4 linked regions of the Homo sapiens genome follow. The protein of the gene in region 2 purifies or fractionates together with the protein of the main gene of each other region. This does not show direct contact. Each region holds a gene or a part of one and is shown on either strand. Other genes may lie near its edges. The genes, in order: KCNAB2, MAB21L3, LRP6 and OTUD5.

Region 1 (7,786 bases), about 110 Mb from region 2:
CTCTCACGACAGAGACCGTCCGCGCCATGACCCACGTCATCAACCAGGGGATGGCCATGTACTGGGGCACGTCACGCTGGAGCTCCATGGAGATCATGGTACGGTGGCCGCGCAGCATGTGTGTGTCCAGGCACAGACTCCCGGCACCGGCTGCGTATGGAGACCCCAAAGCTCTGGCGGGGTCTGTGCCTTTGGTCCCAACTGCACCGATGCCTGGGTGCTAAGGGAGGGACAGGATGGTGGAGTGTGGTGGTTATGTCTGTAGGCCTTGCAGACGGGGATTCTGCATGGATCCCAGCGCTGTGTGGCCCTGGACAAATGGCTTAACGTCTCTGAGCTTGTTTCCCCACCTGTAGAACACATCTGCTAGGTGAGCCCCCATGGGGCCATTCTAAGGAGTCCCTGAGAGAGCCAGTGTGAAGCTCTTAGCAGATGCCCTGGAGCTCAGCAAGCACTCTGGGGTGACAACACCGTCAGCTGTTTCCACTGGGCTCCTGAGACGTGCCCGGTGCTGTTAGGGTCAAGGGTTCCACAGGGACCCTCTCACATGCAATCCTCACCGGTGCCTTTACCAGGTGAGTGCCGCAGGCAGCCCATTTTTCAGATGTGGACACTGTGGCACAGAGAGGTTCAGTAACATGCCAAGGTCACACAGCTTGGGCCAAGATTAACATCCAGGCTGTGTGGTTCAGAGCCTGGGCTGCTCATAACTGGACCCTCCGGCCTGGGGGTCCCACCACCCACCTCCTTTTCCCAGCTCACCAGGGCCTGCCTGGCTCCCAGGGAAGCTATGAGTGTGAGCAGTGGGGAGCCCGGGCTGCAGCTGCTGGGCCAGCCTGCTCCGGGGACACCTTGGTGCCCTCTCCATGGCTGCCCCGGCAGCCTCCCGCCTGCTCACAGGCAAGGGCCCTCGGGGTCCCTTTCTGCCTTCACAGGAGGCCTACTCCGTGGCCCGGCAGTTCAACCTGACCCCGCCCATCTGCGAGCAGGCTGAGTACCACATGTTCCAGCGTGAGAAAGTGGAGGTGCAGCTGCCGGAGCTGTTCCACAAGATAGGTGGGCACCCTCGGGCCCCTCGCCCCGCCCCACCCCACCCCTGCTCTCGGGCCCAGGGCTTGACTCCACCTGCTTTTCCTCTTCAGGAGTGGGCGCCATGACCTGGTCCCCTCTGGCCTGTGGCATTGTTTCTGGCAAGTACGACAGTGGCATCCCACCCTACTCAAGAGCCTCCTTGAAGGTGAAGGAACAGCCTGGTGGGGAGGGACGGGCAGGGGATAGGCATTTTGGACGGGTGGGACCTTTGGGCCGACTGCTTTGGTGCTGGGCAGGGGTTCCGGGAGCTGCAGCTGTTCCCACCTCGGTCTGCTGGGGGCGGGCTCCTTGGCGTGAGAACATGGAGCCCCTCCTGGCCTGATCCCATGTGTAGAGGGGCTGCCCAGCCTGTGGCACAGGCCCAAGTGGAGAGGCCCTTTCACATCCCCCCCCCTGCCCCCACCACATCCCCCCATCTCTACCCCCTACCACATCCCCCACCTCTGCCCCCCACCACAGCCCAGCATTCAGAACTCTGAGACCCCTGGGCCTGGGCTCCGAGATGGGGGCTGCAAAGCCACATGGAGGTGACCCTGGGAGAGGCGCCCCTCCCCACCACACAACCTCTGAGTGGGGACTCAGGAGGGTCCCCAGACTGCAGGATCTGGAGAACAAGGAGCAGGCCAAGAAAGTCTGCCCAGCCAGCAGTCTCAGCACTGGGGCCCACAGCCCTGGGTTCCAGGGCAACGTGGCCTGGCCCCCGACTCCTCCCATCCCATGGCAAGGTCAGGGCCCCCCTCCAGGAGGCCCTGCAATCCTCTGGGGGGGATGGCCAGGGGAGAGAGCACTCCCCTAGGGCCAGGAGGTTCTTCTGGGCCACGGGTGGCAGCCGAGACCCCAGGCTGCCAAGTTTCCTAAGAGAAGGAAGGCCAGCACCTCGCCTCCTTGTCCTGACTTGGGGTTGGGCCAGCACCACAGTCTTTGCACTTCAGAGCCTGGACAGGCCCCGCTCATCCACCAGCCCGTGCCCGGCCCACTGCCCACTCTCCCCTACTTGAGAGGCCTGGGGCAGGGGCACTGCCCTGGCTTCAAGATGAGAAGAGCCCCTATGAGGGAGAAGGGTCCAGAAGGAATGAGCCCATCGGCCCCCTGCACGTGGGGGTCCAGGTGACCTGCTCTCATCTGTAGCTGTGCTGCTCCCCTCCCCCGCAACCAGGGCTACCAGTGGCTGAAGGACAAGATCCTCAGTGAGGAGGGCCGGCGCCAGCAAGCCAAGCTGAAGGAGCTGCAGGCCATCGCCGAGCGCCTGGGCTGCACCCTGCCCCAGCTGGCCATAGGTAACGGTGGGGTCGCCATGGGGCCAGTGCCCCTGGGGAGAACCTGCCCCAGCTGGCCGTAGGTAACAGGGTGGGGTTGCCATGGGGCCAGTGTCTCCGGGGAGAGAGGGAAGGGATCCCTGGACATCATCCCCCAGCCAGCCTCGGGTAATCGGGCTCTAAGGGGCATGGTTGGGACCCCATGCCTCTAGGGGGATGTCAGGAGTCCCTGAGGACCTGGGCCACCCCCTCCATCTGCCAGCCATAGGTAATGGGGCTCCCGCTTTCATGGGAAGAGGATGGGGAGCGCTAAGCACTTGGGCCACCTCTCCATCAGGGAGCAGCGGGCTCCCCCATGCCTCCTCCAGCCACCTCTTAGACAAAGCCCGTGCCCAGCACTGCAGGGCTTCCTAGACCCCCTCAGACCCCCAGACCAAGATGCTGGGTCTCTCGGCCCAGTCAGAGGCAAGGCAGACCCATCAGGGGCCCCTGTGGTGGGTGTTTCTCCCTCACCTTGGGTCTCGCCGCCACAGCCTGGTGCCTGAGGAATGAGGGAGTCAGCTCCGTGCTCCTGGGGGCCTCCAATGCGGACCAGCTCATGGAGAACATTGGGGCAATACAGGTAAGAGTGAGAGGCCCTGCTGGGCAGAGGGCCCATCCCAGCCCGAGCCCCGTCCAGTGCATCCTCCCAGGCTCGTCCTGCGTGCCAGGCTCTGTTCTAGGCACTCAGGATGCGCCCGTGAACCATCAGAGTTGTGCTCCTGGAGAGCTTGCTTTCCAGCAGGAACAGACATGAACACTAACTGCACGAAACAAGGAGGTTAGAATGTGTGTCAGGGTGGACGAGCGCTGTAGGAGAGAAGCCAGAGATAAAGGGAGGGAGCTGGGGCCAGGGACGGTGGCGCTGCAGACTCAGGTTCAAGGGGGCCTGTCAGGTGGGCTTGTTGAGAAGGTGGTGCTTGAGCAGTCTTGAGAGATGCGGAGTAAGTCACGCAAATGCCTGCGGGAAGAACCTTCCACCAGCAGGAAGAGTTGATGCAAAGGCCCAAAAAGGCCTGGAGCAGAGGGGCAGATCCTGAGAGGCACGAAACACCTCCAGGGACTTCTGAGTGAGACGGGAGCCGTGGCAAAATTGTGGGCAGAGGAGGGCGAGCTGCAGCTCAGCCTGGAAAGGGAGGCTGCTCTCCGGCTGCTCCATCGGGGAGGCTTTGGGAAGCAAAAGTCGAAGCAGAGAGCCCTGGTGGGAAGTGGCAGCTGCGGGTCCGAGACGGGAGTGGTGGTTGGATCCTGGATGTTTGGGAAGGTGGGGCCCCCGGGACTGGCTGACAAACTGGATGTGGGGGTGAGAAGGCGAGGTGGAAGTCGGTCCCCGGGTGTGTCACCCGGAAGGGTGGCGGTGCTGTATGCTGAGGCAGGCGCAGCTGGAAAAAGCAGTCACGGACATGGAAGTCCAGCATTTGGCCTGGAGTTTCCATTTTATGTCACTGCTGCCACCACCCTTCAGGAAGGTTCTAGGGCACCTTGACATTTGAGAGGGAGTGCACAGACCCAGGCATGCTTCCTCTCTGCCCCAAACCTTCTGAAACACAAAAGCAGCGTGGCCTCCATCTGCCTCAGATGGAGCCCAGATGTGATGGGGCAACCCGGGCCTGGCCAGCCGACCATCTGGAAGAGCCTGGCCCCACCTCCTCCCCAGGCCAGGCCCGTCTTGTTGGTGGGATTCTGATTTGTTGTTGTTCTTGCACGCAGGTCCTTCCGAAACTGTCATCTTCCATTATCCACGAGATTGATAGTATTTTGGGCAATAAACCCTACAGCAAAAAGGACTACAGATCCTAAGCCGCCCCCGCCCGCCTGCTCGGACAGTTTCCGTTCCCTCCTAGTCTCTGTTCGCTCGCTTAAGCTGTTTTGAAGCCAAGTGAAGAGTGTGGTTTGCATCCAAGAGAAAACACCACACTGTGATGTCATCGGGAAATGATCTCCCAAGTCGCTGCCAGACACCACCCACTGCTTCGCCGGACAATGTCGAAGTCCAGTCTGTGCCGGGGAAGGCACTGGTTAGGAAGGATGTTCAAACGGTCCCACCCAAGCCTGTCACCTCTGCTCATCCTCCAAGACCACCCAGCTTTCTCCCAGCCACAGCCAAGATTCCCAAAGTCAAGGCCCAAAGATTTCCAAGGTTCCCAAAGTCAAGGCCAGGCCAAGGCCTGGTTGGGTCCTTGGGGCGGGCAGGGCCAGCCTCTCCTCTGCTGAGAATCCCCACTTGGTGTAGGGGGAGAGGGGAAAGGGGTCTGGCCCATCGAGGGGCCCCTTCTGCCAGGGCCTTGGTTGCTGGGGCAGGGCCTCCCCACTGGGGGTCTTCCTCCACCTCCCACTTTCCAAGGGCTCCAGGAATCTGGGGCCTGACCACAGATTCCTCTCCCATCCTTTTCTGCTCCAACCTGCCCCACTGGGTCCCGGCAGGGGCCATGCCTACCAAGCTCGAGCTGGCCCTTGACCCCCACCCACCCCCACCCTTGCTGGCAGGGGCAGGGACCCCAGGGGGATTGACTCTGCAGTTTGGGAGCCACAAAAAGCGTAGCGGTGTGATTTCTAGCTCAGCCTCCCACCGTCTTCCTCCTACACACCAATGATGAGCCTCATGCCAGTGAGGCCCGGAGCGCTTGGGAGGGGTCCCAGTGGGGCAGGCCCCTCTGTCTGGCCACCCCTCTGTCCTGGCCCCGGAAGGCCCTGTGGTCATGTGCTCCTAGCTGCACGGTGGCTGCTGGCCACACCACGGCAAGTGGCAGCAGGGGCCGGCCCTGTGCACAAGGATGCACTCCTCTCGGCCCCTGTAGACTTTCTCTAAAGCCGCCCGCCAGCCCAGGCCGCTGCTCTGCACCGAGCTGGTGGGCTTGGGTTTTGTGGAGCGCATGCTTGGACCCTTTCAGTAAGGAAGGGTCTTTGGGGTTTTCTGTGCCCATGACTTGGGGGCTGCACCCCCACAGCACCCCCACAATGTAGGAAAAGACCTCAGGGAACCTCTCCCTGGAAAGACGGGCAGGGCTGGTTAGCCCCTCCCACTGCCTGACACCTGGGACAGGCTGGGCAGAGGGGAGAGAGGGCAGGACAGGCCAGAGTGACGCCCCCGTGCAGCTTGGGCCGGAGGGCAAGGGATGCCAGTAAGTCTGCAGGTGCGGGGTGCCACCTACAGGCCCAGGCCTGTGTCCCAAGCAGTACCCAGGCTTTGCAGACCACGCGGGGCAGGGCTCCACTGAAGCCACCCCCACCCCTCGCCAGCTAGCTCCATAGGGAAGCCTGTGTCTCCTGCCCCCAGGGCGCACCCTCAGTGCAGGCACCTCTGTTCCCGCTTTGCCCCTGGAGGAGCCACTATTCCAGAAGGCTCCACCCTGCCGTCCTGCGGGAGCCTGCTGTCCAGTCCTGGCCGGGCCAAGGCCTGGGAAACTGTGAAAGTCAGAAAGGCCAGCGGGGAGAGGCTGGGGCGAGGGGAGGAGGGGGATCAGCTTCTGCTATTACCGACCCCCCTTCATGCTGCCCCTGGCGCCTAGAACCCTTGCCCCTCCTCATAGACCAAGTCCCGGGGGTCTCCACTCAGTCCTGCTGCCTGCTTCACCAGAAGCAGCCCTGTGAGTGTGGGGTGGGGAAGTCCCTTCCCAACGGAGGTCCCAGCCTATGGCCCTGGGCCCAGGTGGGGGTCGCCTGCTTCCTTCCCGGACAGGGTCCTGCAGTGGCCAATGGTGCCAGAGGGCAGGTGGCCCACCCTCGCCATCAGGGAGGGTGGCTGGCCCCATCCCCACTGCCACCCAGCCCCACCCACTGTTGGAAGAGGGACCAGCGCGAGGTGGTGCCCAGGGTGGGCACTGCTGCTTAATGCGAGGCACACCTGGGGCAGCTGAGCCCCCAAAGGCTGCGGGTTTGCCAAACACAGAGAGGCCAGGCCCCAGTGTCAGGATGCAGTCAGCCTCTGGCGCAGCTCTTTCCACGACCTGGTTCCTGGATGTCCTGCTTGCTCCACACCCATCTACAGGGAGGATGTGAGGGGGCTCTGCCTCCTAGGGCCAGGTCCCCCCTCTCGGGAGGAGGTATTGGGTAGGACCATCCAAGAAAGGGCAGAAGACCAAGGGCAGTCGGGGTCTAGAAAGGAGGGCGCTGGCCCTGCTGGACGCTTCGGAGCCCCCACTGTTTCCCACTCAGCTTTGTGCTCAGATCCCAGGTCCCAAGGAGTGACAGGGGCTTCCTCCCACCTTCTGTCCTTGTCCAGTCATGTAAATAATGTGCTTTTTCTCTCCCCGAGTCTTTTTTTTTAAACCTACCGTGGTTCCTCAGCTAACTGCATTCCCTACCCAGGCAGAGACTGTCCTATGCCTCGAGCTTCCAAACGAGACTCAGACCGCGACACAGCCACCGTATTTATGGAATGACAAAATAAATAAAGCCCAAACCCATCGGTCTCTGTGACTTTTTGCTCCTCTCATTTCCTCAGGGTCAGGGCTGGGCCAGGGTGACACGGGAGGGGAGGAAAAGGCTGCCAGCAGCAGGGCCTGGGGCATCCCCCAAACCGGAGCCTGCAGCCAAGGGCAGGTGGGTTGGAAAGGGCCCGTGGAGAGAGAGCGGGGACAGAGAATGGGGACAGGGTGGTCAGAAGACCTGTCCCCCATCTCTCCCAAGCGATTCAGCCAAGGGAGGGTGCGTGCCTCCCCTGCCGCCCCCAACACACACATTCTCTTTCACCAACTCTGAGGGCCCAAAGCTGCTTGCTGGGAGGCTGCTGTCCCTCTGGGGACCTGGCTGGCTGCTGTTCTCATAAGGACAGAGGTCCAGGCCTGGGGAAGCTCTCATGGTATGTGTTTGGGGTACAGGTGAGAGGGGCCTCACCCCAGCACACCCCTGTTTCGGGCTCCCCTCCTTCCCAGTGAGCCCCTGCACCCGTGAAATGACCATCCCAGGCAAGAGAAGGCTTCCGGACACGCCCCCACCCCCCACCACTCCTCCCTGGCCCCAGCCCCCACCCCCATTCTAAATCTTGAATCTTAAAAAGAAAAAGCCTCTGATTAAATCCTTTCCCAAAGGATTTATTAAAACACAGAAAACCAAAACATACACACAGAGTACAAAGTAAAGGTGATTGTGTTGGCTACAGCCTCTGTCCAGCCTCCCGTGGGCGAAGACCAGACAAGCCACGGCTCACAGGGGAGCCTGGCTTCCAAAGCTGGACCCGCCCCCGCCGGGGCCACCCTGGCTGGGACTCCTGGCGCGCCTTGCACCCAGCCCAGGGCCCTCCCTTTGCCAGCCTGGGGCTGTGCCTGGGGAAAGGGGTCGGCCCCCTCTTAGCTGGGCCTGGGCCGGTGGAGTCTGCTCCCTCCACACCCCTGAACTCAGACCCCACGGGCCAGTGGGGACCCTCCCTTCCTCTCCAGGGGTGCTTGGGCTCCAATCGC
Region 2 (7,786 bases):
TTTAGTAGAACCCATACTTCGAGTACCCATACAACCATTCAATGAATTCCATGAGATATTCAACACTTTATTATAAAATAGGCTTTGTGTTAGATGATTTTGCCCAACTGTAAGTTAATGTAAGTGTTCTGAGCACTTTTAAGGTAGGGTAGGCTAAGCTATGATGTTTGGTAGGTTCGGTGTATTAATACATTTTCAACTTAGAATATTTTCAGCTTCATCAGGATGTGACCTCATCGTAAGTCAAGGAGCATCTATACTACACTTTTTCTTTTTATTCTATGGCTTTTACTTTCAGTTGATCCTCCTGAAAAGAATCTATTAATTTAAAAGAAAAGGTACCCCAAATGCCTTGGGGTTGGGGGAGAAAGAAAAACTCACCAGCAATGAGACTTCTTAGTAATGTTCCGATGCTGGCTAGCTGACTAACCATCTGGTTTTGATGTCAAAACCTTGACGTGCTACAGGCATTGTGATCCTTCACGTGCTACAGACATTGTGAAAGTTGCCACACCAGTTGCAAGGTGCTGGTCAGAGCAACTGCTCACAAATTTCTTGTTTGAACGCTTGTAATGTGCAAACCTTTCTCTTCTCCTTATCCATTTGGTCATTTCCCACCAGGTAAGGTCAGCCTGCTAGGAAACCGCTCTGCAGTTTGGGTTGCTGTGGAAACATCTGCATATCAGGTGGAACTGGAGCTGGTCCCCGCAGTGGAGATCCCCACCACCTGGTCCAAGAAAGCCCGGTGGCCTCGATGTCTGCAGCGCTGGCCTTCCCAAGAGAGAGTGGAGTGCATCAAGGTATCAGTGGGCGGGACCCAGCTTGCCAGAGCAGTGATGCCAACAGCTTAACCAGTCACAGCATTACTGACTGCCAATGAGTTTCCGAAGGAAAGTTGAGGTGTTACTAGATCAGCAGTTCTCAAAGTGTGGGCCCTGCAGCAGCGTCACCTGAGAACTTGTTAGAAATGCAGCTTCCCGAGCCCCCACTCTGGACCTGCTGAATGAGACCCTGTGAACAGGGCCCAGCAATCTGTGTTTTAAGAAGCCCTCTGGGTGATGTGATTCTGATGTATGCTCAAGTTGGAGAACTGCTGTAGGAGAGGAAGTGGGCACCATCTTCTAACTGTCCACATCCAAGGTGGCTTGTGGTCTCCCTGGCACCCCCTTCTCATCCCCACGTAGGATGTGCTGTCTGCCTGGTGACAAGTTCCCCAGACCAGCAGACTGCTTCAGAAATGGCTTTCTACACCAGTGAGCATTGTTCTTCTTATTTCCCAATATTTTTCTCTTTCTTCCAGTCGTTTGGATTTAACTTGTTGGCCTGTTCAAATTATCACTGGCAGCTGAGCTTCCTCCGTGCTGAGCAGGTGTTACTGGAACAGCTGGATGAAGATGGGGGCTGCCGTAGGAAGTGTTTTCAGGTCATGAGGCACCTGAAGGAGGACATCTGGTGCCCAGGGAACAGGCCGGTTATCACGTCCCACCATCTGCAGGTGAGTGTGGGGCAGGTTGGAGAAGACCCAGGGGCAGCTTTGGATAGGTCATTCTTCCTGTGGCCTCTGTAGGGCCTGGCCAGAGCCACTCAGAAGGGGTAGCATGTGTGAAAAATTCAGGATGAGGTTCTAGTATCTATATTTGCCATCCAACAAATTACTACGTATTATGGAAATATGTAAACTAGCACCATATGGGAGTCCACAACACCCCTGCCCAGGGTAAAATTTCCTCCCTCCCTTCCCTTTTCCAATTCTCTTCTATCCCACTTTTCCTCCCCTCTCACTTTTATTTTACCCACCAAACCAACCTGAGTGCTCACTAGGTGCCAGAAACCCTGCTGAGGTTCAGAAATGAATCACAAAATGTGGTTTGTGCCTCACACTTTGATGGCTTTATGTTTGCGCCAGTCTTTAAACCCACTGCAGCCTACGCACACCTCCTCATGCACACAGACCCACTAACACAGAGGGGACCAGGAAATGCAACACAGAGGTTACCACACACGTAGTGCCACACACTTCTTTCCAGGGTCCAAATCACCAGGCAAGGATCTTCCCTTGCTCTGCCAGCCCCTGCCTCTCCTTGCCCTAAACCCAACAGTACACATTCATTCATGCCTTCACTCACTCATTCAGCAAGTGTTTATTGAGATTACTCTGGGCCAGAGGCCTGCCCCAGTACCTGCTGTGGGCTCAACCTCTGCAGGCACAAAGGTGAACAGACACAGATGTGTTTCCTCACTCATGGCACTTCTGGTCTAGCATGGGAGATAGACATGGGTCAGGCAAGCCAGTGGGTGCGTGTACAATCACACAGTGAGGAAGCACTGGAAAGGGAGGAGTATGGCTCTGTGAAGGCTCAGAGCAGCAGAGCCTGACCTGGACTGGGCAGTCAGGGGGCCTCCCTGGAGAGGGGGCCTTTGACCACCCTCCCGACTCCCTCTTTCTCAAATTGTGAACCACACAGAGTGAAGTGTACTCTCATGTAGCAGCTCTGTGCAGCCTGCTGGAGTAGGGAGGTAGGAGACTCTTGCAGGACACCCCAGCCCAGCCTAGCTAGTGTGGGCTGTGAAGCCTAGCTTCAGCCCTCCTCCCTGGCCCCAGAAAGGATGGACTCCCTTTCTACTCAGGTAAGCACAAGTCCCTGGGGCAGTCACCTATCTGTGAGGTGCCTTCCTCACATACCTCTTCCTTCTCTCATTCGATGGACAAAACTGTCTTCCAGCCCCATGTTACTCTGTCTGCTCTAAAGTAACTTATTGAAGGACAGATACCACATTGATCTTGTCCAGCTGGCATGCTGACCTAACTCGATGTTCTTATTCATTGGGAGAAGGTGAACAAAACCCCCATTATCTCTCCCAATGCTTTGTACATAGTAGCGCATTAAATATTTGTTGAGCAAATGAATGAGTGGCTTCACATCTTACTCAACTTTTCTCTTTTTTTCGCACAAAATCACTAACCTTGCTTCACCTTCTTATCTTTCCAATAACCTGTCCATTTTGACCTGCGGAAGAATCTGTTAACATCTCATTCACATGCACTGGGGCTTTTCTCTGGAGTTCCAACATTCTCAACGTGTCCCAAGCACACTTCCCTAAAAACACGCAGGCTGTTCTCCTGGATGGAGGGCATGTGCTTGCAGAAGATACTTTGATTCTTTCTGTGGATTTAGCTTCTCTTGCTTTCCTTTATACAGGCCACACTAGAAGAGGCAGAGCTGAGACGCAAACTCAAGTCTATCTCATATCAAAACCTCATAACCTTAACGATTGACTTCATTACCTCTCAATTAAGATGGATGGAAATACCATTCGGTGACATGAATATTTCAGGCAGGATTGAATGGGGCCACCATGGATCTCCCAGCCATGGCTGCTTGCAAATCTGTACTCCCCACAAGGGCTGACTTCTATTCTGATGGCTCCTAAGTCACCTGGTGGATTTTAAGGCAACTCCTTAAGGATTCTCTGTTTCAATCCTCCCTGACCCACCTGTGTGGCACAATAGGGCATCCTCAAGGATGGGCATTTTTTTTAAGTGGGCTATTTCTGGAGTAAGATAAACAGAAAGTGCTAACTGCCTTTTTCTCTGGTCTTCCATCCTTAGTCCACAGACAGAATTATCTCCCATTTAGGCATCCCTGCCCTTGAAATGAATGTGGCTGGTGATAAATGTGGTGCTAGACACCATCCCAGATGATGACTTGAGTGTGCTGGATCCTTGCCAAATCTTCATTTTGAGGAAAGTGGAAGAGGTTGGGTTGCAAAACAGCATTAGGAAGCTGTGGCACTCAGCCTTGCCTCACCTTAAGTCTGACACTCTCTTACAAGGCCCTCACCTTCTCCCCAAAAAGGCTCTGCCCCAAGACTATTTCATGTGAAGCAAAAGCTTATCTTTTATTGCCTTATTTATTCCTAAAACCCACTCAAAATACATTGGCTTGCTTATAATGAGCTTAACTGCCCCAGTTTGCTTAGGGAGATAAAAGCTTAATTAACAAGAGGAATTAACATTTTTTCTGGTATCTAGGTTATCTTCGCTTGCATGAAATTATCTCTAACTCATTTATTCATAATAACGTAATCTAAATACATAGTTGCTATGAACTTACAACTGCTCTAAAAAATAAAGACTGTATAAAAATAACCCAATATCTAAACCATAACATTAATGGATAATTCATTAATTCACTTATTCAATAAATGTTTATTAACTTCCTCTCATGGGCTAGCCTTTGCTGGGTACTGGGTAGCTTAATAGTGAATAAAAATAGGCATCATTCACTGCTCTCATAAAGTTTATAATCCAGTAGGGGAAATGATAAAATTAATCACATAAATATAAAAACTACTACTGTTGTCGCTGCTTCTTATGAGAAGTACATGACTAAGAGAGTGTGCAATGGGTGTACTAGGGAAATTTGATCTGATGGACAAAGAAGGGAAAGAAGTGTGCCCTATGCAGCCGAAGCAGGATGTGCAAAGGCTCTGTGGTAGAAGGGAGCATGAAATGGCTGGTGTGGCTACATGAAGAGAGCAAGGGAGGACACAGGTCAAGATGAGTCTGGAAAGGAAGGCAGGGACCAAACCTTATAAACCACACCACATTAAGGATGATGTTTTTAGCTAACAAACAATGGGAAGACCTTGAAGTATTTTATTTTATTAATTTTTTTTTTGTTTTTGAGACGGAGTCTCGCTTTGTTGCCCAGGCTGGAGTGCAGCGGCATGATCTTGGCTCACTGCAAGCTCCACCTTCTGGGTTCACGCCATTCTCCTGCCTTAGCCTCCCAAGTAGCTGGGACTACAGGCACCCGCCACCACGCCTGGCTAATTTTTTGTATTTTTAGTAGAGATGGGGTTTCACCGTGTTAGCCAGGATGGGACCTTGAAGTATTTTAGATGAGAAGGGAAGTAGATGTATATTGGCAGCAGTATGGATGGTGATAATTTGGATGGTGGCAAGAACAGGGATGGGCTGATGAGATCGCTACTGCAGAGGTCCAGTGAGATGTGGAGGCAGTGTGGAGGGGGATGGTAGAATAATACTGGAGGTGAAGGTAAATGGGTAGACTCGAGAAATACTTAGACAAGAGGATTACAGGACTTGACTGGGGACGGTAAGGGAGAAGGGCGACTCCTAGGTTTTCGTGTTGCACAACTAGCTAGTTAAGCAACTCTGGAGGCAGATCAGGTTTGTGCAGGAAGAGCAGGGGTTCAGTTTGGGCATGTTGGGACTGAGATAACTTTCAGATACTCAAGAGATACACGATAAGCAGGTCAGAGGAGAAGTCTGGGCTGGAGACACAAATTTGCAAGTCATTCATATGTAGTGAGAATTAGAGCTGCTGTGGTGGAGGCAACATAGAGCTGAGGAATGAATGTAGACTGAGAGGAGAAGAGGGCCTAGAATTGAGCCTCCAGAAACTCCACTTCTCAAAGGCAGGCCAAGGAGTAAAAGCCTGCCAGGGAGGCGCTGTAATGCTAGGAGAAAAAACCCAGAGAGCAGATTGCTTGGAAGTCAAGTGAAGGATGGCTCAGGAGGGAGGGTGTGGGCGAGAGAACCAGGTCTGCTGAAAGGTCAGGTAAGGTGCAGGCTGACAAAGGCCTATTAGATTTAGAAAAGTGGAGATCACTGGGCCTTGACGAGAGGAGCCTTTGAGGATTAATGAGAGAAGAATCCATATTGGAGCAGACTGAGGCAAGAAATGGGAGGAGAGGAAATGACCACAAATAATAGAGCCGACTCTCCAGAGAAGCCTGGATTTGCAGAGGGAAGAGTGAGGGCAGGAGGCAGATGTGGGGTTGGGGTTGCAGGAGAGCTCTCAACTTGTGAAAAGCAGTTGAGGAAGAGGGTAATCAGTCATATACAGTTCCTGGAAGATGGGATCCAGGGCCCTGTGGAGGGATCAGCCCCACAGGCAGAAGAGGCAGAAGCAGGGAGGAAGAGAGGTGGGTGCCGCAGTAGGCAAGATCTGTCTGGTTTGGGAGGATGAGGGGTTCCATTTTCCCCGTAAAGTAGGAGGCAAAGACATTGCCTGGATTAGTGAACATTGGAAATGTTGGAGGAGAGTGAGGGAATAGATTAGGGAAGAGGTGCGGGAGACCAGCTGGTAAACTGAAGGCCCACCTGAAGTTGGGGATTGTGAATTCATGGTAGATCCAGTCTGCCCAGGCAACTCTTTTCTCCCTCCTTCCAAGGCCACATAAGCTCAATAATTGTTTCCAAGCTATCCTCCTCAATTGCCCGAAACAATGTCTGACAGCACTTCTCCCTTCCACAGACTGTGCTCTTTTGGACCTGCGAGAAATATCCCCACTTTAAAGACTGGCAGGTCTTCAGCAAAGCATTTCTGCGCCTGGTGAGGAAACTGCACAAGTGCGTGAGCCAGCACTTCCTGAAACACTATTTCGTCCGGAACAGCAACCTCTTTCAGTGCACCAACCCGACTGAACTGGACACTGTGGCCCAAAAGCTGGCCACCTTCCTGAAGAACCCCCAGATCGGCCCGCCCTGATGGTTGCCCCGGCCTGGGAGGCTCTTGGACATTTTATTCTGGCTTAACATTGTTCTTTGGATGGTTCCTCAGTCAGGTGCCAGGATCCTGCCTAGGAGAAAGGCCACGAATGGCAGCGGAAATTACATCAAACCAGAAACACTTCAGCAGGGGGAAAACTGTGCCCCAGGATGTCTGGCCCAGGCCTCCCTGGAGCCCAGCAAGCATTTCTGCCCTAGCTAATTCTCCTGGAGACAGCTCTCATCAGGCTTCCCCAGGCACAGATTTGGAACTGGTGACAGTTCTGAACTTAGTTTCCCTTGTTCAGGCTGTGATCGTCTCACAGTGAAGATGGAGACAGAACCCCTGGAAGTCTGGACATGAGCCTGCTGGCCAATACTGTGCCCAGCCCACTGATCATGGGCACATTCTCCTGCCATTTGTAAAATGGGAATGTTAACGTGCCTACCTCTGAGCAGGGCTGTGTGCCTATGAAACTGTGCTGGCGCCTTTTCAAGGGGAAGGCATTGGATCAACACAAAGTGTTCCTGGTTGGTTGAGTAGCTGGTGTTTGCATCCTGGATCGGTACCCACAGCACTGACGCAAAATTGCACCTGATGAGTTAGTGAGCCTGTGCTTCCTTGCTGCCCTCCAGCTTCCTTAGCATGTGGGTCAGTGGCTCCTGATGTTCTGTCTGCTTCGCTGGTATTCTCTAAGCAGGGAGGGGAATGGTTTTGATGATAAGTGTAAGTCAAAGATGAAAGTACAACTCTTGGCCTGATCCCAACCATAGCCCTCTCTTTGCTTCCCATGCCATGGGCCATGGATGGAACTTCCTTATATATTTATGTAAATAACCTAGTACTATGATCTGCATGGAGTGACCTTAGGTGTCTGTCACTGCTCAGTGTGTTCCTTTGCTCACTTCATTCACTCACTCACTCATTGACAAATAATGCTCATTAGGCACCGGGAACACAGCAAAGAGCAAAGTGGATGAGGACCTCCCCCTGGGGATGCCACCTAATGGTGGAGACAAGAAATGAACGACAGATAAACACGCACAGTTATTACAGATGGAAGCAAGTGCTTCAAAGGAAATAAACAGAATGTTGAAGTAGAGTCCACAGAAAGGTCCCCGAAGGATGAAAATGCAAATAGCTGAAGGGGAAGGAAAAGTGACCAAAGGCAGGCATGGTGGGGCTGGCATGAGTCAGAGCACCTGGCCTTGTAAAGCCAGGAAGGAATCAGTATTTTATTCTAAGATCAAAGGTGTGACATTTGG
Region 3 (7,786 bases), on a different chromosome or scaffold from region 2:
GAAAGACAGGGTTTTGTCTGTGATATGGAGTGCAGTGGCATGATCATGGCTCACTGTAGCCTTGAGTTCCTGGGCTCAAGTGATCCTCCTGCCTCAGCCTTCTAAGCAGCTGAAACTACAGGCATGTGCCATCGTGACCAGATAATTTTTTAATTTTTTATAGATGTTTCCCAGGCTGGTCTTGAACTCCTGACCTCAAGTGATCCTCTCGCCTTGGCCTCCTAAAGAGATGGGATTACAGGTGTGAGCCACCATGACCCAGACTAAGAAATCTTTGTAATCGTTACAAATTTATAATTTAACTATAGCTAATGAACGATTGAGTCAAAACACAAAATGGCATTCCAAATAAATGTCATAAAAATTCACATCTTTTTATATTACTTTAAATGTAAAATTTACAGTGCTCAATATGTGCAAACCTCTGGTACATGGTGCATATAAAGGGGAAAAAGGTCTACTCTTCAAAAACTTTTCATCAAAGAGCTATTTCTGCATTAGCATAAATCTAGAAGGTTACAAATAAAGACAATATAATGTGTAGCTAAGAATTCATGGTAATGAAGTTCACTCGTCACCTTTCTCAGACTTGCAAAACATAGTATCTTTAAACTGGATATATGGATATACAGTACTTAAATTATACGTACCAATAAAGCTAATCATTAGTGAGGAAGACTCCTATCCCTTGCAGTCCTTTACTTGTAGTTTGGGTCTTGTAGTGATAAAACAATGACTAAGACCATTAGAGAAAATAGCCTCCTGGTTAAACATACATAATTTGATAAAGGTAGGTTTCCAATATTTGGGTGACTATTTTCTTGGGAAAAAAAAAATGACAGCTGTGTGCAGCAGGCTCACGCCTGTAAGCCCAGCACTTTGGAAGGCCAAAGCGGGTGGACCACCTGAGGTCAGGAGTTCGAGACCAGCCTGGCCAACATGGTGAAACCCCATCTCTACTAAAAACACAAAAATTAGGTAGGCATGATAGTGGGCGCCTACTAATCCCAGCTACTTGGGAGGCTGAGACAGGAGAATCACTTGAACCCAGGAGGCAGATGTCACAGTGAGCCAAGATCATGGCACGGCACTCCAGCCTGGGTGACAGAGCGAGACTCCATCTCAAAAAAAAAAAAAAAAAAAGACTACTGCTGGTCATGTTATTTTTATTGAGAGTCTCATCAATAACTTTAGGCCTGGTGTTAATAACTTACATAACTTAATGTAGTTTTCTGCCTAAAAATATAATTTCATTTTGCATCCCCAATCTCCTCCTGAAATTAGTTCCAAAATATTTAAGCACTTATACAAGGTCCTTCCAAGCAAGATATTACAGAAACTACAAGTTATGATACCGCTAAAAGGATCACAGCATCAAAGTATCAATAATTTTCACCGAAGAGTCCAAGCACATTTTAAAAGTTTCTAGCCTCACACCCGAACAGCTTGAACCTTTAGTGAGAATACTCACTGCCGCAAACACGAACAGCTTGAGAAACAAAAGCATATGTTAATAATACCAAATAACCTTGTTTCCTTGCATTTATGTACTGACAAATTGTATTTTAAAATAAATAATTTTAAGAGCAAACAGCCTGTTCTTAGATTGCCTAGTCTGTATATTTGACTAAATTTCAAAGTTACTCATATAAAACAGTGTTTTATTCACTGAAGTGAGGCTTACTTTATAGAAGATAAACACCCTTATCCGAAGTGAAAACATGCAATGCAGAAACTCAGTATAGCATTCAGCCATCCTGCAGAAAGAAATCCACCAACTGAATAATTGTTGTAAACAAATAATGCAATTTCTCAATTAGATGTCTTGATAAAATTATTTTGCCCATGCTTAACTCTTTAATAAGTATCACAATCATTTGAACTGTCTGTTCTGTAGCTTATTTATAATAATCATCACCTAAAATAGTTATGGCTGCAATCCTTTAGAAATAAATTTAGGCCAGGCGCGGTGGTTCACGCCTGTAATCCCAGCACTTTGGGAGGCCGAGGCGGCTGGATCACCAGGTCAGGAGATGGAGACCAACCTGGCTAACATGGTGAAACCCCGTCTCCACTAAAATACAAAAAAAATTAGCCGGGCGTGTTGGCGGGGCCTGCAGTCCCAGCTACTCGGGAGGCTGAGGCAGGAGAATGGCGTGAACCCGGGGGGCGGAGCTTGCAGTGAGCCGAGATTACGCCACTGCACTCCAGCCTGGGCGACTGAGCAAGACTCCGTCTCAAAAAAAAAAAAAAGAAAAAAAATTTAGTGTCATTCCGTTTTATATCAAACAAAACAGAAATTTCCATAAGTAAAAGTATTTTATGGAGCTTTTATTCCAGTTGCAGAAGAATCAAAAAAAATTCCAAAACCACTGGCCTAAAACTATCAACTGCCAAAAACAGTGCCCAGGACATAGCGACACTTAAAATGTTTTACCAGTCTTTCCAGAGTATAATGTTTCTTTTAATTCGGCCATCTTAATAATAGCAACCATTTATTCAATGTCTACTATTGACTGTGCGTTCTACTACCCCTTTACAAACATTTCGTCAGTTCTCACAGAAGTCTTGCAAGTTATATCCCCACCTAACAGGAAAGGAAATAACTTGTCCAAAGGAACACAAAGCGGCAGAAGAGTTTAACTTGGCCTGTTTAACAACAAGCCATGTCTTTCTGCTATAGTACCTTCCATATAATCTTCTCTAAATGTAAACTTTCAATAGAATTTCTACGATGAAAATAATCTTTCTCAGAGTAGTTACCCATGGCCTAAATAGCACTAAACATTATTTTTCCAGTATGCGCAAAATATTTAAACAAAAAATATACGTTCTCATAAAATATTTTCCATTAATATATCCCTTCCCAGAATCTCCTTTGATATTTAAAACAGTCCTTTCTGACAGCCAAAGCATATATAAGGACACAGTAGTTCAGTACAGCAAATGGAAAAACTTCCAATTAAAGCAAAGAAAAAAATCTCTTAAAAATTGAATCATGGCCGGGCGCGGTGGCTCACGCCTGTAATCCCAACAGTTTGGGAGGCCGAGGCGGGCGGATCACGAGATCAGGAGATCGAGACCATCCTGGCTAACACGGTGAAACCCCATCTCTACTAAAAATACAAAAAATTAATCGGGCGTGGTGGCGGGCGCCTATAGGCTGAGGCAGGAGAATGGCGTGAACCCGGGAGGCGGAGCTTGTAGTGAGCTGAGATCACGCCGCTGCACTCCAGCCTGGGCGACAGAGCAAGACTCCGTCTCAAAAAAAAAAAAAAAAATTGAACCACAGGAAATCACTATTAGCCCTTCTGATAATAACAAGCTAAAACCTTAAAATTTAATAACCAGACAAATTATTGTTTAGCCAAATGAGCAAACCTGAAGCCAGGTAAGTAAACAGGAATGACAGTATCAAATTAACTATATGAAACTGTCATCAAATATCAATGTAATACTTGACAAGTTTGGAAAATAATAGGTTAAACAAAGTTAAAACCGGTCTCTTTACCTCAGGACTTTTCAGAACCCTTAATGTGTTAACATGAATTCTAATCTCCAAATAAAGTGTACAGAGATCACTCAAGGTTACACAGCAAATTTAGAACCATAACTTAATTCTCCTGATTGCCACTCCAAAATTTGTTCTACTTCCCCAAGACTTTATAACACCTGATTTTAAAGGAAGAAAGGATCGCTTCTACAGAAATACAAGATGCAAAACATTAGTGGTTTGTTCCAACAATATTTACCAGCCCACCAAAACAAAAAAAAGTAACGAAGAATTTTTATATAACAAGCCTCCTCAAAAAAAGCTAAAAAGGCCAGGCGCGGTGGCTCACGCCTGTAATCCCAACACTTTGGGAGGCAGAGGTGGGTGGATCACCTGAGGTCAGGAGTTCGAGACCAGCCTGACCAATATGGTGAAACCCCATCTCTACTAAAAATACAAAAATTAGGCCGGGCACAGTGGCTCACACCTGTAATCCCAGCACTTTGGGAGGTCAAGGCAGGTGGATAACTTGAGGTCAGGAGTTCAAGATCATCCTGACCAATATGGTGAAAGCCCGTCTCTACTAAAAATATAAAAATTATCCGGGCATGGTGGTGTGAGCCTGTGGTCCCAGCTACTCAGGAGGCTGAAACAGGAGAATTGCTTGAACCCAGGAGGGAGAGGTTGCAGTGAGCTGAGATCATGCCACTGCACTCCAGCCTGGGCGACAGGGTGAGATACCGTCTCAAAAACCAAAAAAATACAAAAATACAAAAATAAGTCAGGCATGGTGGCAGGCACCTGTAGTCTCAGCTACTCAGGAGGCTGAGACAGGAGAATCGCTTGAACCAAGGAGGCAGAGATTGCAGTGAGCCAAGATCGCGGCACTGCACTTCAGCCTGAGCGACAGAGCGAGACTCCGTCTCAAAAAAAAAAAAAAAAGCAAGCTAAGAAATAGTATTTCACAGATTACACACACCGATGGTATTCCAAAACCTATATTCTTATCAAAAATACTTCCAGCAGAAGATCAGATATTATTTTTTCTCATCAGTATCCGAATGGAACTAAGAAAATGGTAAGGATGGCAACCTAAACTGTGAGGCCCGTTAGATTAGGAAACACATTGTTTTACTCACCATCAGTACCAGAGGCTGACATATAGGAGGTATTCCATACATATTTGCTAAAAGAATGAATAATAAATCCCTGCCCCATCTTTAATTAACCTACCTTTATTAAATTACAGTATCTCTGAATCTGAGTTTCCCCACTTACAAATAAACTGGTGAGGCTCAAACGACCAAGATCCCTTTCACTTTTAAGAATGTGTGAATCTGGGCCAGGCGTGGTGGCTCACACCTGTAATCCCAGCACTTTGGGAGGCCGAGATGGGCAGATCACCTGAGGTCGGGAGTTCGAGACCAGCCTGACCAACAAGGAGAAACCCCATCTCTACTAAAAATACAAAAAAAAAAAAAAAATTAGCTGGGCATGGTGGTGCATGCCTGTAATTCCAGCTACTCAGGAGGTTGAGGTAGGAGTATCGCTTGAACCCGGGAGGCGGAGGTTGCAGTGAGCCGAGATCATGCCATTGCACTCTAGCCTGAGCAACAAGAGCGAAACTCTGTCTTTAAAAAAAAAAAAAGAATGTGTGAATCTGGCCGGGCGTGGTGGCTCACGCCTGTAATTCCAGGACTTTGGGAGGCCGAGGTGGGCGGATCACGAGGTCAGGAGATGGAGACCATCCTGGCTAACACAGTGAAACCCCGTCTCTACTAAAAAATACAAAAAAATGAGTCCCAGCTACTCAGGAGGCTGAGGCAGGAGAAAGGCGTGAACCCGGCAGGCAGAGCTTGCAGTGAGCGGAGATCACACCAATGCACTCCAGCCTGGGCAACAGAGCAAGAATCCGTCTCAAAAAAAAAAAAAAGAATGTGTGAATCTGCACCTGTAATCCCAGAACTCCGAGAGGCGGAGGTGGGAGGATCACTTGAGCCCAGGAGTTTAAGACCATCCTGGGCAACATAGCAAAACTCTGGCTCTATAAAAATTAGCCAAGTGTTATGGCACACAACTGTGGTCCCAGCTACTTGGGAGGCTGAGGTGGGAAGATCACATGAACACAGGAGGTCCAGGCTGCAGTGAGCAGCGATCATGCCACTGCACTCCAGCCTAGGCAACAGAGCAAGACCCTACCTCCAAAAAAAAAATAGGAATTCGTGAACCTGGCCAAGCATGGTGGCTCACACCTGTAACCTGTAATCCCAGCACTTTGAGAGGATCACTTGAGGCCAGGAGTTGGAGACCAGCCTGGGCAACATATCAAGACACCCCCACACCAACCCCATATCTACAAAAAATTGGGGGCATAGTGGCACGTGCCTATAGTTCAGAGCTTTGGGAGGATGAAGCAGGAGGATCACTTAAGCCCAAGACTTTGAGACTGCAATGAGCTGTGATTACACCACTGCACCCCAGACTGAGTGATGAAGCAAGACTTTGTCTCTTTAAAAAAAAAAAAATTGTGAACGTTATACAAATTAAATCTCAAATCATGAAAGCATTTGAGGATATGTCCCTGAACAAGCAAAAATTATAGCAAAAAGTAACATTAACAAGGTACTCCATATTATTTCATTTAAAACACCCAATAACCCTGCAAACTAGTCAGGTATCATTATCCACACTACCAGTAAAGAAACTGAGACCTAGAGAAGCGGACTAGACCAGAACCACAAAGTTATGAAGTTGTGACACTTGGGCTTTAAATCCAAGATTTTAGTATTGAAATTCCCAAATCTTTCCTTTATACCTTGTCATGTGATGATAGAGATAGGGACACAGCACTAACAGTATTCCCTGGCTTTCTGCTACTAATTCAACAGGGCTACAGGACAGAAGGTCTCCCAGACTCTCACATACCCCATCACACCCAGCCAATGTTAAAGCCCCAATTCTTTGTGGGGGAAAAAAATGACCTAAATGCAACAAATCAATCAGATTTTTCTCCTTGGAGTCCAAGGTTGACTAAATATCTTTACTATAACAGAGGATGACATTCTCAAAGAATGAATTAATTCTAAATTATGAACAAAAATATTTTACATCAAAAGACAGTTTTACTTCAAATAATATGTACTCACAGCTAAGTACAGTACTGTTACATATTAGAAGACCACCTTACACCATATTTCGCCACATTTAAAACGAGAGCTCCACTTCTGAAAACTTTGCTAGTGGAAACGAGACAATTTAAACTATTACCTCTTCCAGGTCTTGTTACATAAATAAGTGCAACCTATCTAAATTCCAATAATGAACAAACCCAGCTCTGGTCTCAAAGCTGGTGTTAAACAAACGGCATTTACATCACACGCTTCTCCTCCAAGAAATACAACTAGACAACCAGAAACATCCCAAGTTATAAGTTTTCCCACGACTCTAACCAATCAGCTGGTTCTCATATTTGTCAGCCCTATTAACCTTATGTCTTAAAATACATACATATTCTTATGTCAAATATAGTTGTTTCTAACAGCTACAGCAAAACCCCTTTCAATAGAGTATGCCAATAATAAAATAAGTATATACTTATGAAACCTCTCCAGTACGTAACACTTCATTAAAATTTCTGCCACAAAAATCTAATGAACACTACCTTTCCGGGGTTTACATGTGGGAAAACTTTGTAATATGCTTAGAGTATCAAGTAATATAACATGCAAACACAATGCTGCATTACTACAGAGTAACTGAAGAAAGTATTTCTCCTCCTCCAAAAAAAAACTCAATCATTCTCATCCGAAATACATATACACAGTACACGCAAAAATATACACCTGTCACAGACTATTAGTTACTATTAGTGTTCTGTAAACTTAAATTAGTTTGGAGAACTTAACAAAAGTTTAGCTTGTTAACACCTAAAAATCTCCAGCGACCAGCGGTCACATGCCTGAAAAGAACTTACTATGAACGCCAGTAAGAACTTTACCAAACCAAAACTACAAGCCACCGTATCGAGCAGTACTTAAATTCCTCTGCTGGTAAATGCTCCACAGCCATCACAGCCATCTCAAGTTCAACACTAAATAGTTTGAGAAGAGCTGCCGACGGGCCAGTCAAAAATCTTTGTGAACTGTCACAAAAGTCACAGAGCATGTGTCAGCTTTGCAGTCCAATTCAAAACATCATAGTGCCATCGAATTCAAGCGATTCCCAGAGCAAATTATCTCGAACAGCCTATGCAATTTACCAAAGTGCCAAGCAGTCCCCAGGGGTGCAGAGCAA
Region 4 (7,786 bases), on a different chromosome or scaffold from region 2:
GGTGTTATCAGCGATTTTATTGCACTTTCCCTTTTATAAAGTTACACTAAACCCAAAAAGCTTTGAAAATCAAGTCTTTTTTTTTTTTTTTTTTTTTTGAGATGCAGTCTCACTCTTTTGCCCAGGCCGGAGTGCAGTGGCACTATCTCGGCTCACTGCAAGCTCTGCCTCCCGGGTTCATGCCATTCTCCTGCCTCAGCCTCCCGACTAGCTGGGACTACAGGCGCCTGCCACCATGCCTGGCTAATTTTTTGTATTTTTAGTAGAGACGGGGTTTCACCATGTTAGCCAGGATGGTCTCGATCTCCTGATCTCGTGATCCACCCACCTCGGCCTCCCAAAGTGCTGGGATTACAGACATGAGCCACTGTGCCCGGCCCAAAAGTCTTTATCTAATTCATTTGGCATCATAACCTGACCAGAACTGACAAGAATCTATTTATCCCACTTGGGGTAAATATTCAAATATTTCAATGCAGAAAACATTCAGGTGTTTGATTATGAGGTGCTGCCTCAGACCCTGCTGGAGGTGTTATGTAACACAAAGTATACACACCAGGTAAGTTTTATAAATTGTTTTTTTCCTAAATTCCAAAGCACACCTGGCACCACGAAGGTTCAACTTAAATGAACCTGTACAAATGCCTATTTTTTAATTAAAAAAATAATGACCATATAACCTCTTAAAACATAATTTTCATTTCAAAACAAAACCAACCAGAAGCAGCAGACCTTTCCTGGGCCCCTCACGCCCTCTGCTGGCTACCAGAAGCAGCCAGCCTGACCTAGCAACAAGGCTGCAAACTACAGGATCCCAAGCCTGCTCCTTGTGGACACAGGCCTGCCCAGGGATTTATAGGATCTGGGGTATTAGAGACCAGACATAGGGGCCCACCTATCCGTAAGGCCATTTTTCCCCAGCTCAAGCAAGGGGTGGAACCCATCCCCTAAGAAAGCCAGAGGAGAAGCATCTCTGGCAAAGTTGTAAGCACAAGGTTTGGAACGCAAGAGCTCTGGGTTCCAACCCCAGCTTTGCCACACACTTGCTGTCTGTTATCACTCTCAGTTTCCTATAGAATGGGGGATATGTTGATCTACCGGACAGAGCTGTGAGGAGTTTCAGGACCTAAAGAAGCTTTGTAAATAACGTACCATATACTAGGGGAAGTTGTCGCCAATCACAGAAGGGGAGGAGATCAGCACAGAGATTATGCACAACTGAGAGACCCTCAGAAAGTCCCAGGTGAGTAGCGGGACAGGAGGGGAGGAAGAGGTGACAAGGGAATACCCAGCCAGTCCCATCATCAGGGCCCACACCCCAGGAAAATGTGGCTGGATTTCTAGAGATGACAAAGACACCTGGAAGCCCTTAATGAGCTTCCATGCGCAGCACAAGGACTCCTGTTTGTGCACAACATTCCAGTGGTCCAGGTGTCCCTCCTTGCCCCCAAGCCTGTGGATTAACACACTCCAGCCAGTTATGCCCAAGTCCATCCTGGCCACACATGGTCAGCCATCTCCCAGAGTCATGGGCCTGCCCCAGCCAGGGGTCTCCAGCAGGGATGGTGCAACCACAACTATAGTCCCAAACCTGACACAAGAATAGGTTCTTAAAAAGAAGGGAACACAGCGACTTCCTGGCTTTGGAGAGAGGGGAAAAAGAGAGGAGAAAAGGAGATCAAACAGGAGAGGGGCTCCTACTTATCCATTCAAGAAAGACTTACCAGGTAGCTACTAAGTAAGATACTGGGCTGGGCAGTGAGGACAGTGAAATGAATCAGACTTAGTCTCCACTCTTGATAAGCTCACAAACTACTTAGCAGAGGGGTAGGGAAACAGGTAACCACCACAAGGTATGAACAAGGCTGTGAAAAATGTAAATGCCAGGTGTTGTGAAACAGAAAGAGGCTGGGCGAAGTGGCTCTCGCCTGTAATCCCAGCACTTTGGGAGGCCGAGGCAGGTGGATCACTTGAGATCAAGAGTTCAAGACCAGCCTGGCCAACATGGTAAAACCTTGTTTCTACTAAAAAATACAAAAAAAAATTAACTGGGCATGGTGGTGCATGCCTGTAATCCCAGCTAAATCAGGAGGCTGAGGGAGAAGAATCGCTTGAACCTGGGAGACAGAAGTTGCAGTGAGCCGGGATCATACCACTGTATTCTAGCCTAGGCGACAGAGTGAGACTCTGTCTCAAAAAAAAGAAGAAAAGAAAAGAAACACAGTCATTGGGCCAGGCACGGTGGTTCACACCTGTAATCCCAGAACTTTGGGAGGCTGAGGTGGGCGGATCACCTGAGGTCGGGAGTTTGAGACCAGCCTGACCAACATGGAGAAACCCCGTCTCTACTGAAAAATACAAAATTAGCCAGGTGTGGTGGTGCATGCCTGTAATCCCAGCTACTCGGGAGGCTGAGGCAGGAGAATCGCTTGAACCCGGGAGGCGGAGGTTGTGGTGAGCCAAGATCGCACCATTGCACTCCAGCCTGGGCAATAAGAGCAAAACTCTGTCTCAAGGAAAAAAAAAAAAAAGAAAAAAAGAAACACAGTCATTAAGGCTAGCACCTGAGAGGAGGTGCCACCTGACCAAAGGATTAAAACACCAAGACCTCCAAAAATGCTTGTTAACTGGATGAGAAATGAAGTCACTTCTGCCACGAAGTACCAGGAATGCCTGGAGCCCAGCAATGAATTCAGTAGAGCTAAAGTTCTGGGTAGTACTAGGCAGGTAAGCAGGGAGGACCAGGAAGAAAGATGAACTCATATTAACTGAATACCTGCCCCATGCCAGATGCAAAGGGTGACCTCGTTTAATTTTCCTGACCACAGCCCAGGTGGCAGGAAACATTACCCTCACTTTACAAAGGCAGAAAGGAGGCCAGACACGGTGGCTCACGCCTGTAATCCCAGCACTTTGGGAGGCCAAGGCGGAAGGATCATCTGAGGTTAGGAGTTTAAGACCAGCCTGGCCGACATGGCGAAGCCTTGTCTCTACTGAAAATACAAAAAATTAGCAGGGCGTGGTGGCGTGTGCCTGTAATCCCAGTTACTTGGGAGGCTGAGACAGGAGAATCGCTTGAACTCGGGAGGTGGAGGTTGCAGTGAGCCGAGATGGCACCATTGCACCCCAGCCAGCCTGGGCAACAGAGCAAGACTATGTCTCAAAAACAAAAACAAAAACAAAACAAAAAACAAAAAAACAAAGGCAGAAAGAGAAAGGAGCTGGAGTTTGGATACCAGCAAAGCCTAGTGTAGAGGCAACAGGGAAGGCCCCCACGAGCCACAGCATGGAGGACATACCTTGCAGCCCATCCACAGAATATCCTGGTTTGTCTCTAAACATGAAAGAGACCTGAATAGGCCCCTCGCACTGCAGGGTTTGGGTCCTGGGGCAGTCAAACTGGCATCCAGGCTTGGATCTAGAGGCTGGACTGCTAGCCACCCACTGGCTTTGTCATCAGCAGCCTGAGGAGTTTGGGCTCTGGCCCTTCTCTTTCTCCTTTTGGGGAGAAAATGTTGCTCAGGAAGGGCTAGTAGGGGTGGGGGGTAGGGGATAGCTCAGCCATAGATAAGTTTAAGCTCCAACAATGCCCTGGCCTGAGGAGATTGTGAACCTTGCAAACTCATCGCTGAGCCTATGGGAAAATCCCTCCATATCTTTGAGCCTCCACAAAAAGGCTGAGTAAAGCTCCCTAACACCAGAGGATCCCAGGAGCTGAGGCAAGATTCTGTAACCTAGTGGTCTAAGGGCCCAAGTGAAGTTGGAGCAGGCTGTGGAACCCAACTGACTTAGGTTCCAATCTAGCTCCACCAATTATTAGCCATGTGATGATGAACTGCTCTGAGCCACAGTTTTCCAATCTGTGAATGGGGATACCAAGCCTCCCAATAATAGGGATGCTGGGCAGACTCAAATATTACAGGGCTTTGCCCAGTAAGAGACCACTTAATGAGTTCCCTTCCCTTCCCCAGGAGGGAAAAAAGCCTCTCTAGTAGGCTGATTAATAGCCACGCAAAGATATCAAACCCTAACCCCCCTGGAACTTGTAAATGTTACCTTATAATGAAAAAGGTAGGGCCAGGCGTCGTGGCTCATGCCTGCAATCCCAGCACTTTGGGAGGCTAAGGCAGGCAGATCGCTTTGAGCTCAAGAGTTCAAGACTAGCCTGGGCAACATGGTGAAATCTCATCTCTACAAAAAATACAGGCCAGGTACGGTGATTCACGCCTGTAATCGCGGCACTCTGGGAGGCCGAGGCGGGTGGATCACCTGAGGTCAGGAGTTCGAGACCAGCCTGGCCAACATGGTGAAACCCTATCTCTACTAAAAATACAAAAATTAGCTGGTCATGGTAGCAGGCGCCTGTAATCCCAACTACTCAGGAGGCTGAGGCAGGAGAATCGCTGGAACCTGGGAGGCGAAGGTTGCAGTGAGCCGAGATAGCACCACTGCACTCCAGCCTGGGTGACACAGCGAGACTCCATCTCAAAAACAAATAAATAAACACCAAAAATTAACCGGGCATGGTGGCTCGCACCTGTGGTCCCAGCTACTCAGGAGGCTGAGGCTGGAGGATCACTTGAGTCCAGGAAGTGGAGGGTGCAGTGAGCCAAGATTACGCCACTGCACTCCAGCCTGGGTGACAGAGGCCAGCACTGTCTGAAAAGAAAAGAAAAGCCCGGGCACAGTGGCTCATGCCTGTAATCCCAGCACTTTGGGAGGCCGAGGCGGGTGGATCAACTAAGGTCAGGAGTTTGAAACCAGCCTGGCCAACATGGCAAAACCCCATCTCTACTAAAAATACAAAAATTAGCCAGGTGTGGTGGTGGGCGCCTGCAATCCCAGCTACTCAGGAGGGTGAGGCAGGAGAATAGCTTGAACCCAGGAGGCGGAGGTTGCGGTGAGCCGAGACTGCGCCTGGGTGACAGAGTGAGATTCCACCTCAAAAAAAAAAAAAAAAAGAGAAGAGAAAAGAAAAAAAGTGTTTGCAGATGTAATTAACTTACATTATTAAATCTGGAGATGGGGGGTTATCTTAGAGTATCAGGTAGGACCTAAATGCAATCACAAGTGTCCTTATAAAAGAGAGACAGAGGGAAATTTGATACAGACAGAAAAGGAAACCACATATACAGAGAAGGCGATGGTGAAGATGGAGGCAGAGATTAGAATGATGCAGTCATAAACCAAGGAATGTTGGCAGCCACGAGAGGCTAGAGAAGGTCTAAATTCTCCCTGAGAGCTTCCAGAAGGAGTGTGGCCCTGCCAACACTTTGATTTGGATGCAGTGAAACTGATTGTGGACTTCTGGCCTCCAGAATTGTGACAGAATAAACTTCTCTCTCTCTTTTTTTTTTTTTTTTTTTTTTTGAGATGGAGTCTCGCTCTGTCACCCAGGCTGGAGTGCAGTGGCGCAATCTCAGCTTACTGCAACCCCCACCTCACTGCAACCTCCAATCCGTCTCCTGGGTTCAAGCAATTCTCTGCCTCAGCCTCCCGAGTAGCTGGGATTACAGGCACCCACCACCACACCCAGCTAATTTTTATATTTTTAGTAGAGATGGGGTTTTACTATCTTGGCCAGGCTGGTCTTGAACTCCTGACCTCGTGATCCACCCGCCTCGGCCTCCCAAAGTGCTGGGATTACAGGGGTGAGCCACCGCACCCGGCCAACTTCTGTTGTTTTAAACCACCCAGTCTGTGGTAACATTTGTCACAACAGCCACAGGAAACTAACACACCCCCCTTGGTAGCACTCCTTGGTGTCTGTTCCCTAGTGCCTCACAGGTGTGAGACAATATGGCATGGATCCCGCTCTGCAAGGTCCACCTGCCTACCATCCTCCAGGGTGGGAGGTTAGAATTAAGGCAGCAGGGGCCTGGAATCTCCCTTCTCACCCTGGGAAACTACTGACCCTGCCTATGGATGGATGAGCTGCCACTGAAGTGGGGGTGGGGTGGGGGGGCAAAAGATGGCAGCAGCAGTGGCAGTTCATGGACAGATGTCTTCCCAGAGCCTATGGTCAAAAGGTGTTTAGCATTCTGTGACTCACAGCTCTGTCCCAGCAGCCCTGGTGCCAAGACCACCCCCTCCAGCAAAGCACCCAGGAACACTAGCCTGGCTCCATGGACAAAACACAGGGGGCCAGGCGTGGTGGCTCACGCCTGTAATCCCAGCACTTTGGGAGGCCGAGGTGGGCGGATCACGAAGTCAGGAGATCGAGATCATCCTGGCTAACACAGTGAATCCCTGTCTCTACTAAAAATACAAAAATATTAGCCAGACGAGGTGGCAGGCACCTGTAGTTCCAGCTACTCGGGAGGCTGAGGCAGGAGAATGGTGTGAACCTGGGAGGTGGAGGTTGCAGTGAGCCAAGATCGCGCCACTACACTCCAGCCTGGGGGACAGAGTGAGACTCCATCTCAAAAAAAAACACACACAGGCAACCCATCCAACGAGGAACATAGACACACTACTCTCTAAGGACCAACACAAGCCCTCCAGGGCAGAAGGGGAGAAGAGCAAGGCCCCAACATTTGGCTAGGCCACTGAGGGCAGGGGGATTAAAAACCTCTAAGATTGGCAGGGTGCGGTGACTCACACCTGTAATCCCAGCACTTTGGGAGGCCAAGGCAGGCAGATCACCTGAGGTCAGGAGTTCAGGAGACCAGCTTTGCCAACATGGTGAAACCCCATCTCTACTAAATATACAAAAATTAGCCGGGTGTGGTGGCAGATGCCTGTAGCCCCAGCTACTTGGGAGGCTGAGGCAGGAGAATCACTTGAACCCGGAAGCCGGAGGTTGCAGCGACCTGAGATTGCGCCACTGCACTCCAGCCTGGGCAGCAGAGCAAGACTCCACCTTAAAAAAAAAACAAAAACAAAAACAAAAACCAAAAAACAAAAAAACCCAAGGTCCTGTTATTCAGTAATAGAAAGGAATGAAGCACTGATGTATGCTACAACATGGATAAGCCTTGAACATATTATGCTAAGTGAAAAAAGCCAAGTAACAAACAACTGCATATTCTATTATTCCATTTACATGAAACATCCAGAACAGACAAATCAATCAAGCCAGAAAGTAGATTAGTGGTTGCCAGAGGCTGGAAAGGGATGAGGAAATTGGGGGATCATAGCTAAAGAGTGCTGGATTTCTCTTTAAGGTGATGAAAATGTTCTAAAATGGACTGTAGTGATGTGATGGACGCACAAATCTGTGAATATACTAAAAGCCACTGAACTGTACACTTCAAAGAGGTGAATAGTATGGTACATGAATTACATCTCATTAAAGTTGTTAAAAGAAACACACCCAAGGGCTCAGCACCAGCCAAGGACGCTGAACACTGCTTGAAATGTCCTAGCACAATCCCCAAAGGCCAAGGGGTCCCACTTAAAACTTTCATGAAGGGTGAGGGGAGTGGGAGCAGGGAGGAGACTATAACTTGCTTCAGAGCAATGAGTCCAACCTCCCTCCTCAACACTACCCATTTCATGGAGGGAGAAACCAAGAACCAGAAAAGAGAACTGCCTGAAGACCACAGAAAAGCTTACTGCAGAAACAGGACTCAAATCCACGTTGCCTGGGCAGAGACCCCTTCCTGCTTCCCCACCAGCTAGCTACCCAATTCCAGTTGGGGTAAGAAGAGCCCAAGAAATCAGCAGGTTCCTAGATGCCAAATGAAGGGCCTTTGCTATCAAAGATAGGTTACTAGGAGTGGACAAAGGCTCCTAGGAAGAACCAAGATGACCCTGGGGCAAACTGCCCATTCTGGGCAAGAGG

What was found.
Region 1: the proteins of MAB21L3 (region 2) and KCNAB2 purify together in Homo sapiens (co-immunoprecipitation; one large-scale study listed by IntAct). This does not show direct contact.
Region 3: the proteins of MAB21L3 (region 2) and LRP6 purify together in Homo sapiens (co-immunoprecipitation; one large-scale study listed by IntAct). This does not show direct contact.
Region 4: the proteins of MAB21L3 (region 2) and OTUD5 purify together in Homo sapiens (co-immunoprecipitation; one large-scale study listed by IntAct). This does not show direct contact.

The regions. Positions count from the first base shown.
Region 1 is NC_000001.11:6,094,388-6,102,173, forward strand, and holds the end of KCNAB2 (voltage-gated potassium channel subunit beta-2), read left to right. Parts: intron 1-12; coding exon 13-98; intron 99-935; coding exon 936-1,056; intron 1,057-1,142; coding exon 1,143-1,237; intron 1,238-2,248; coding exon 2,249-2,369; intron 2,370-2,881; coding exon 2,882-2,970; coding exon of another isoform or gene 2,971-3,144; exon of another isoform or gene 3,145-3,168; intron 3,169-4,097; coding exon 4,098-4,187; 3' UTR 4,188-6,793; downstream 6,794-7,786.
Region 2 is NC_000001.11:116,126,845-116,134,630, forward strand, and holds part of MAB21L3 (protein mab-21-like 3), read left to right. Parts: intron 1-621; coding exon 622-800; intron 801-1,300; coding exon 1,301-1,495; intron 1,496-6,287; coding exon 6,288-6,521; 3' UTR 6,522-7,786.
Region 3 is NC_000012.12:12,258,139-12,265,924, forward strand, and holds part of LRP6 (low-density lipoprotein receptor-related protein 6 isoform b precursor), read right to left. Parts: intron 1-7,786. UniProt on the Homo sapiens protein: Component of the Wnt-Fzd-LRP5-LRP6 complex that triggers beta-catenin signaling through inducing aggregation of receptor-ligand complexes into ribosome-sized signalosomes.
Region 4 is NC_000023.11:48,945,191-48,952,976, forward strand, and holds part of OTUD5 (OTU domain-containing protein 5), read right to left. Parts: intron 1-7,786. UniProt on the Homo sapiens protein: Deubiquitinating enzyme that functions as a negative regulator of the innate immune system. Has peptidase activity towards 'Lys-48'- and 'Lys-63'-linked polyubiquitin chains. Can also cleave 'Lys-11'-linked ubiquitin chains (in vitro).